3 separate regions of the Homo sapiens genome follow, and all the other regions are linked to region 3. Evidence: fine-mapped expression QTL. A gene starts in region 3. Each other region holds a variant in brackets. All regions are shown on one strand. Distances are from middle to middle. Region 1 overlaps TPX2 (TPX2 microtubule nucleation factor). Region 2 overlaps TPX2 (TPX2 microtubule nucleation factor). Region 3 holds the start of FOXS1 (forkhead box S1).

Evidence for each region. PIP is the estimated chance that this variant, and not a neighbour inherited with it, causes the effect.
Region 1: its variant is fine-mapped to the expression of FOXS1 in subcutaneous fat (GTEx, PIP above 0.99).
Region 2: its variant is fine-mapped to the expression of FOXS1 in nucleus accumbens (GTEx, PIP 0.95).

What each region holds. Positions count from the first base shown.
Region 1 is chr20:31,750,183-31,752,946 of GRCh38, forward strand. All of the region lies in intron 2 of TPX2 (TPX2 microtubule nucleation factor), which reads left to right. Among named protein-coding and RNA genes, the nearest start is that of TPX2, 12 kb to the left of the region's middle. The variant C/G (reference allele first, on the strand shown) is at 1,160.
Region 2 is chr20:31,761,818-31,764,581 of GRCh38, forward strand. The region is part of intron 4 of TPX2 (TPX2 microtubule nucleation factor); the gene reads left to right. Among named protein-coding and RNA genes, the nearest start is that of TPX2, 24 kb to the left of the region's middle. The variant A/G (reference allele first, on the strand shown) is at 1,366.
Region 3 is chr20:31,844,372-31,847,135 of GRCh38, forward strand. FOXS1 (forkhead box S1) reads right to left here and starts at 1,233. Exons shown (of 1, transcript NM_004118.4): 1 at 1-1,233. The coding sequence starts at 1,171. The coding sequence ends at 179. It also overlaps a transcript of DUSP15 not described here. RefSeq lists an enhancer at 617-1,174.

The DNA.
Region 1 (2,764 bases), 94 kb before region 3:
GTTTCGCTCTTGTTGCCCCGGCTGGAGTGCGATGGTGCGATCTTGGCTCACTGCAACCTCCACCCCCCAGGTTCAAGCAATTCTCCTGCCTCAGTCTCCCAAGTAGCTGGGATTACAGGCATGCACCACCACACCTGGCTAATTTTATATTTTTAGTAGAGACAGGGTTTCTCCATTTTGAGGCTGGTCTCGAACTCCTGACCTCAGGCGATCCGCCCGCCTTGGCCTCCCAAAGTGCTGGGATTACAGGTGTGAGCCACCGTGCCCGGCTATTTATTTATTTATTTATTTATTTATTTATTTATTTATTTATGAGACGGAGTCTCACACTGGAGTGCAGTGGCATGATCTCGGCTCACTGCAACCTCTGCCTCCTGCATTCAAGCGATTCTCCTGCCTCAGCCTCCCGAGTAGCTGGGATTACAGGCATGTGCCACCAAACTCAGCTAATTTTTGTATTTTTAGTAGAAAGATGGGGTTTCACCATGTTGGCCAGGTTGGTAGTTCTATATAGAAATATTAGAAAGAGAATATGTAACATTTGGGTAAGTTAATAGTCAATTTATAGGCCACGTAAATGGGAAGGATTATTTCCTTAAATCAAGAGATTAGACAATCATTGCTTGTCATGAATATTTAATAAAAATTTGAGAAAGCTCAGTTTCTTTTGGGCTGCAAACATAGATCTAGGGAAATAAATACTGCTTAACTATTTTGTTGTTGTTGTTGTTGTTGTCTTTTAAGAGACAGAGTCTCACTCTGTTGCCCACGTTAGAGTGCAGTGGTGCAATCGTGGGTCACTGTGGCCTCAAACTCCTGGACTCAAATGATCCTCCCACCTCAGCCTCCTGATTAGCTGGGACTACAGGCACACACCACCATGCCCAGCTACTTAGGAGGGGTTGAGGAGGGAGGATCCTTTGGGCCCAGGAGTTCGAGTCTAGCCTGAGCAACAGGCTAGATTCTTTAAAAAACAGAGATGAAAAAGAAAGAAAAAAAGGATGTGAAGGGTTAAATTTGAACACTTTCCAGGTAGTTTTCAGCATCATGCTTTGGTGGAATCATGGTTTTGAGGCTAAGTGGGGTTGCTGCATGTTACATTCCTGCCTCTTCCTTCCCCCAGCTTTAGTCGTCTTCATTACATTCATGCCTGGGAAGC[C/G]TTCCCAGTGACCTGAGTTAGGCATTAAGATCATGGGAATCCAAGATTTTCCCATGTCTTCTAGCATATTTGTTCACAAGAAAAGGAAAATTTCCTCCTTGCAGCAAGGGGTTTTTAACCACTGTCAGTACCATGGAATCTTTCACTAAAAATCCTTTGAATAGAAATGTGGTCAAGGAGAGGAAAGGTATCAGCAGTGATAATACCTTACAATAGTGTATTTCATAGCACTTGAAGTAGCTTCTTATTTGATTATGGTAAGAAGGTAGGCAGAGAATTAGTGACTTGCCTATTGTCATATACATGTGGTAAATGCCAGAGAGGGCATTCTGGACTTCTGTTAGTTGGAATTGCTTTTGACTACAGGTGACAGAAAATGTGGCTATAATGGTTTATACAATAATTATTATTATTTTCTGAGATGAAGTCTCACTCTTGTCACCCAGGCTGGAGTGCAATGGCGCAATCTCAGCTCACTGCAACCTTCGCCTCCTGGGTTCAAGTGATTCTCCTGCCTCAGCCTCCCGAGTAGCTGGGATTACAGGCACCTGCCACCACACCTGGCTAATTTTTATATTTTTATTAGAGACAGGGTTTCACCATGTTGGTGAGGCTGGTCTCGAACTCCTGACCTCAGGTGATCCGCCTGCCTTGGCCTTCCAAAGTGTTGGGATTACAGGTGTGAGCTACCGTGCCTGGCCTATTTTTTTTTAGTATAAGAAGTCTTTTTAGCAGGTCATGGAAAATTGTAAAAAACACCAGAAGTCTAGAGGTATATAGTAGCTGATATTTGATCTTTAATAGTCATTAGCTCATTGATGTTAAGCCCTATGTTTATTGTTCTCTTGGCCATCTACTCATGTATACCAGATGACTGCCATAGCTCCAGCTTGCCTTCAAGGCAAGAAGAAGGATAAAGGGAAAGGGCAGGAATAAGGGCTATAGCTGTTTTCAGGAAAGAAAATTTTTTCCTAGGAATCCCTCAGCAGATTCTTACTTAGTTCTCATTGGCCAGAACTGTCCCATGGCTACCCCAAGCTTGGAAAGTGGCTATCAGGAGGTAACTTCCATTTTAATGTACTTGCTACTGTTTTGGTCATGGTCAATGAAAAATATTTAATCGTACCTTGACTTCAGCCATGTTAATTTCTAATTCTCTATACTTAGAGTTCATACTGTATAATTTAAACAAACTGTCTTATTTATTGTGTATGATAGGACCTTAGCGTCTATGTAGATGTTAAGTTCCTTTGTGTTCAGGACTACATCTACTTTTTTTTCTTTTTTTTTGAGACGGAGTCTCGCACTGTTGCCCAGGCTGGATGCGGTGGCGTGATCTCGGCTCACTGCAAGCTCTGCCTCCCGGGTTCACACCATTCTCCTGCCTTAGCCTCCTGAGTAGCTAGGACTATAGGTGACCGCCACCATGCCTGGCTAATTCTTTTTGTATTTTTAGTAGAGACGGGGTTTCACCATGTTAGCCAGGATGGTCTCAATCTCCTCACCCTGTGATCCACCTGTCTCGGCCTCCCAAAGTGCTGAGGTTACAGGTGCGAGCCACTGAGCCTGGCCGCTTAGATCTACTTTTTGTGTGAAGATATAGAG
Region 2 (2,764 bases), 83 kb before region 3:
GAGGAGCCTCCATACTGTTTTCCATAATAGCTGTACTAATTGACTTTACTACTAACAATATATAAGAGTTCTCCTTTCTCTGCATCCTCAGGGATGCAGAGAAATTTTTAATATTTTTCATAGTGTCCATTCTAACTGGGATGAAAGGATATCTCATTGTGATTTTTAATTTGCATTTCCCTGATGATTAGTGATGTTGAGCATTTTTTCACATACCTGTTTGCCATTTGTATGTGTTCTTTTGAGAGATGTCTGTTCAGCTCATTTGTCCGGCTGTTGAGTTATTTGAGTTCCTTGTGTATTCTGGATATTAGTCCCTTCTTGAATGAATAGTTAGCACGTATTTTCTCCCATTCTTTAGTTGTCTCTTCACTCTGTTGATTGTTTCCTCTGCTGTGCAGAAAGTTTTAAATTTAATATAATCCCATTTGTCTACTTTTGCTTTTGTTGCCTATACTTTTGAGGTCATGTTCATAGGATCTTTGCCCAGAACCGTGTCCTAAAGTATTTCACCTATGTTTTTATTTTATTACTTTATTTATTTATTTTTGAGACAGAGTCTCACTCTGTTGCCCAGGCTGGAGTGCAGTAGTACGATCTCGGCTCACTGCAACCTCCGCCTCCCGGGTTCAAGTGATCCTCCTGCCCCAACCTCCCAAGTAGTTGTGACTACAGGCGCGCACCACCACACCCAGCTAATTTTTGTATTTTTAGTAGAGATGGGGTTTCGTGATGTCGGTCAGGCTGGTCTTGAACTCCTGACTTCAAGTGATCCTCCCACCTCGGCCTCCCAAAGTGCTGGGATTAGAGTCATGAACCACCGCCCTCGGCCTCCCCTATGTTTTTAGTTGTTTCATAGTTTAAGGTCTTACATATTAGTCTTTAATCCATTTTGAGTTGATTTTTGTATATGGTAAGAAATAGATGTCTAGTTTCATTTTTCTGCATTTAAATATCTAGTTTGATCAGCACCATTTTTTGATTTTTCAAATTTAAATTTTATTTTAGAGATGAGGTCTTACTCTATTGCCTAGGCTTGTCTCAGAATTCCTGGGCTTAAACAATCCTACCACTTCAGCCTCCCAAAGCTAGCACCATTTATTGAAAAGACTGTCCCTCCACCAAGGAATGTTCTTGGTGCTGTTGTCAAAAATCAGTTGGCTATAAATACGTGGATTTTTTCCTGGGTTCTCTATCCTATTCCATTTGTCTGTGTGTCTGTTTTTATGCCAGTACCATGCTGTTATGGTTACTATAGCTTTGTAATGTATTTTGAAGGCTGGTAATTTGATGCCTTCAGCTTTGTTCTCTTTGCATAGGATTGGTTTGGCTATATGGGGTCTTTTGTGGTTCCATGTGAATTTT[A/G]GGTTTTTTTTCTTGAGACAGAGTCTCACTCTTGTTGCCCAGGCTGGAGTGCAGTGGTGCGATCTTGGCTTACTGCAACCTCCGCCCCCCGGGTTCAAGTGATTCTCCTGCCTCAGCCTCTGGAGTAGCTGGGATTACAGGCATCTGCCACCACCCCTAGATAATTTTTGTATTTTTAATAGAGATGGAGTTTCACCATTTTGGCCAGGCTGGTCTCGAACTCCTGACCTCAGGTGATCTACCTGCCTCGGCCTCTGAAAGTGCTGGGATTACAGGCGTGAGCTACTGCGCCTGTCCTGCTTATACATTATTTATGGCTGTTGTATTCTTACTAATTTTTCTTTCCATTTGTTCCATCAATTAGAGAGAGAGGTAGTGAAATCTCAGACTGTAATTATGGATTTGTCTCTTTATCTTTATAATTTTTGCTTCATATAGTTTGAAGCTACTATTAGATGCATAAATGTTTAGGATTGTTATGTCACGTTGATGAATTGGCCACTTTAATTTAATTTAAATTTAATTTAATTTAAATTTAATTTTTTTTTTTTTTTTGGCTGGACGTGATACCTCATGCCTGTAATCCCAGCACTTTGGGAGGCTGAGGTGGGCGGATCACAAGGTCAGGAGTTCGAGACCAGCCTGGCCAATATGGTGAAACCCTGTCTCTACTGAAAAATACAAAAATTAGCCGGGTGTGGTGGTGCGCACCTGTAGTCCCAGCTACTCGGGAGGCTGAGGTAGGAGAATCGCTGAAACCTGGGAGGCGGAGGCTGCAGTGAGCCAAGATCATGCCACTGTACTCCAGCCTGGGCGATAGAGCAAGACTCCATCTCAAAAACAAAAAATTATATACATATATATACACACACACATACACACATATATATACACACAAGCATATATATATGTACATACATCTAATATACATGTATGTGTGTATATATGTACATATACATGTATGTGTACATACATGTACACATACATGTATATGTATATATTTTTGAGACAGGGTCTCACTCTGTCACCCAGGCTGGACTGCAGTGGAGCAATCACGCCTCACTGCAGCCTCTACCTCCTGGGCACAGGTGATCCTCTTACCTCAGCCTCTTGAGTAGCTGGGACCACAGATGCCACTACCATGCCTAGCTAGTTTTTGTATTTTTTGTAGAGACAGAATTTTGCCATGTTGCCTAGGCTGGTTTTGAACTCCTGGGCTCAAGTGCTCCACCCACCTCAGCCTTCCAAAGTTCTGGGATTACAGGTTGAGCCACTGTGCCTGGCCCCACTTTAACAGTTTGAAATGATCTTCTTTATCCCCATTGAAATTCTGTGCTCTGAAACCTACTTTGCCTGATATTAATATAGCCACTCTAGTTTTCTTTTGATTGGTTTTAGC
Region 3 (2,764 bases):
CCCCCAAGTTTGTCCGGAGGCCCCAGGGGCCTGGCTGAGCACCGCTTCAATCCTGGCTTTCTGTGTGGTTGTCCTTGGCTCACCAGGGCTGGGTCCTTCGAGAGTTCTTCAGGTCCTAGAGCCAGGCTCAGCCCGGAGGGTGAGGGACCTGCAGGGACTGCCCGAGGTGAGGCTGCCTTTACTCAAAGAAGAACATTCCTGGCGTCCGGTATAGGCAGGGGGTCAGCCCCAATGGGTAGCCGGAGCCTCCCTGGACAGGGAAGCCACCTGCAACCCAGGGTTCCTTGTGGTCAGTTGGCAGGGGCAGTGGGGCCCGGAGTGAGCCTGGAGGGGTGGGTGGTGCAGGGGAGGGGGCTGCTGAGGCCAAGAGGTGCTCAAGGCCTGGGTCAGCCCCCATGCAAAAATTCAGTGCCTGCAGCCGACACTGGTAGCTGCTCCCGATGCCTGATTCCGGGGACAAGACGGGCGTAGGGGCCTTATTAAAACTCTCAGCCTCTGAGAAGCCGGCAGGAAAGCCAAACGCTGGGCATGAGGAAGATGAGGTGGCCACGGGGAGCTCCCCTGGGCATGCAGGCTTGGGCGTGGAAATCTCTTTGGGCTCCATGGGTGGCCGAGGCCTGCCATCAGTGGTTGCTGGGCACATACTGGCTGGCATGGCCCCCACCAGACCCCCAAAGCTTAGGCCCTTGGGATCTGGCAGCTCTGGTGGGAATGAGCACTGCCTGCCGGTCGTGGCGTTGGGGACTCCTGGGTCCTGGCTGGTCGCCCTGAGGGGTCCACGGCGTGCCTTGGCGGGGCCCCGGGTGCCCTCAGCACCTGTCTGCCGGGTGAAGCGGCGGCGGCGGCGTAGGAAGCTGCCGTGCTCAAACATGTCGTGGCAGTCAGGGTCCAGCGTCCAGTAGCTGCCCTTGCCTGGCTTGCGGTCATCGCGGGGCACCTTGACAAAGCACTCGTTGAGTGACAGGTTGTGGCGGATGCTGTTCTGCCAGCCGGGCCGGTTGTGGCGGTAGAAGGCGAATCGGCCCATGATGTAGCGGTAGATGCCACTGAGGGTGGCCCGCTGCCCCGGTGAGCTCTGGATGGCCATAGCAATAAGGGCGATGTAGCTGTAGGGAGGCTTGGTTGGCTCAGTTGTGGGGGCGCCAGGCCCGGGCAGAGGCTGCTGCTGCATGCTGGCCGGGCTGCCAGGCTGCTGGGACCTGCTGGGTCAGGCTCAGCTTCCAGGGCTGGCGTCCGGAATAGCCTGCCCAGGCTGGTTAAAAGGTCCACTGGCCCAGCCTCCCAGCCTGGAAAGGCAAAAAGGGGTGGGTCTGCTGAGCCATCCTCCCCTCCTCCCTCGCCCCACTCCCACAAGGCCCAAAAGAGGCGGGCAGGAGAGGCCAGTAGTGGGAAGCCGAGCAGCTGCCAGGGATGAGGAGTTGGGAAGGAAGGGACTGAGACCCTCAGCCCACGTGTGCTGGGTGGTGGTGGCTGGGGAGGGACAGGATGTGAAACTGAGCGGGACAGAGACAAAAACAAAATGAGACAGAGGCAGAAACATATGAAACAGAGACAGGGAAAAAAGAGATAGAGACAGAGAGAGGTAGAGACATCACAAGAGGGAGAAAGAGGGAGAGACAAAGATAAGACAGAGGCAGACACAACGGACAGAGACACCCAGAGCCTCTCAGACACTCACAGAGAGACACACAGACATACACGTACAGACACACAGAGACACACAGACATACACGTACAGACACACAGAGACACACAGACACAGACACACACACAGACACACACACACAGACATAAGCACACACACACATATACACAGAGACAGACACACACAGACACATAGGCATACACACAGACACACACACAAGCACATACACAGACACACAGAGACATACACACACAGAAACACAGAGACACAGACACAGACACACACACACACACACACACACACACACGTAGTATACGGAGAAAGTGAGAATCACTGAGCAGGCAGAAACAAGGAAATCCACAAAGCCAGAGAGAAAGGAGATACTGAGAGACACAGGTGCAAACACAAGGAGTGAAAGGAATGAATAGAGAGAGAGAGAGAGAGAGAGAGAGAGAGAGAGGAGAGAGAGGCAGGGCCTGAGCCCAGTCCCCCTAGAGTGAGAGAAGCCCCAGGGGCTTCTCTAATCCCTACCTCTACTCCTGCTTTTCCCTCTTCTCCCAGGCCTGTGGTCTACTGCCTTCTCCTGCGGTGCAGAGGCCTTGGGGCCACACCACTCCTACCCCATCCTCCTAGCTCTGGGGTGTCTGCAGGGAGGGGCACCTAGGATGGTAAGGAGAGCCCATGAAATTCAGTTCTGCTGCATCCCTGTCGCCCCCTAGTGACTGGTGTGGGAAGGACAGCTATCTGGGGAGAGACATTCTCCCTCCCAAGAGGCACCTCAAGACCTTGGCTGAGCCTCAGTTTCCCCATCTCTAACATGGAGCTGGTGACTCCTCAGCTGTCCAGGCCATGGTGGGGAGGCAACAGGTTCCCCTTACACAGAATGCAGCACCCTCATCAAGAGCCTAGTATGGAGTAGGGATATGAACATGGCTGCGGATTGTCACTCTGAACTGAGGCTACCCCAGCTGCAGCCTGGGGTCGGGAGGTCCAGAGAGTCAGGCCCAGAACAGTCAGGCCTTCTGGAGGAGGGGACGGCATCCTCTCTGCTCTCCCACTCCCAAGTCACTGCTCACCCACTCTGTACCAGGCCAGCTCACCTCCCCAACCCTACACTTA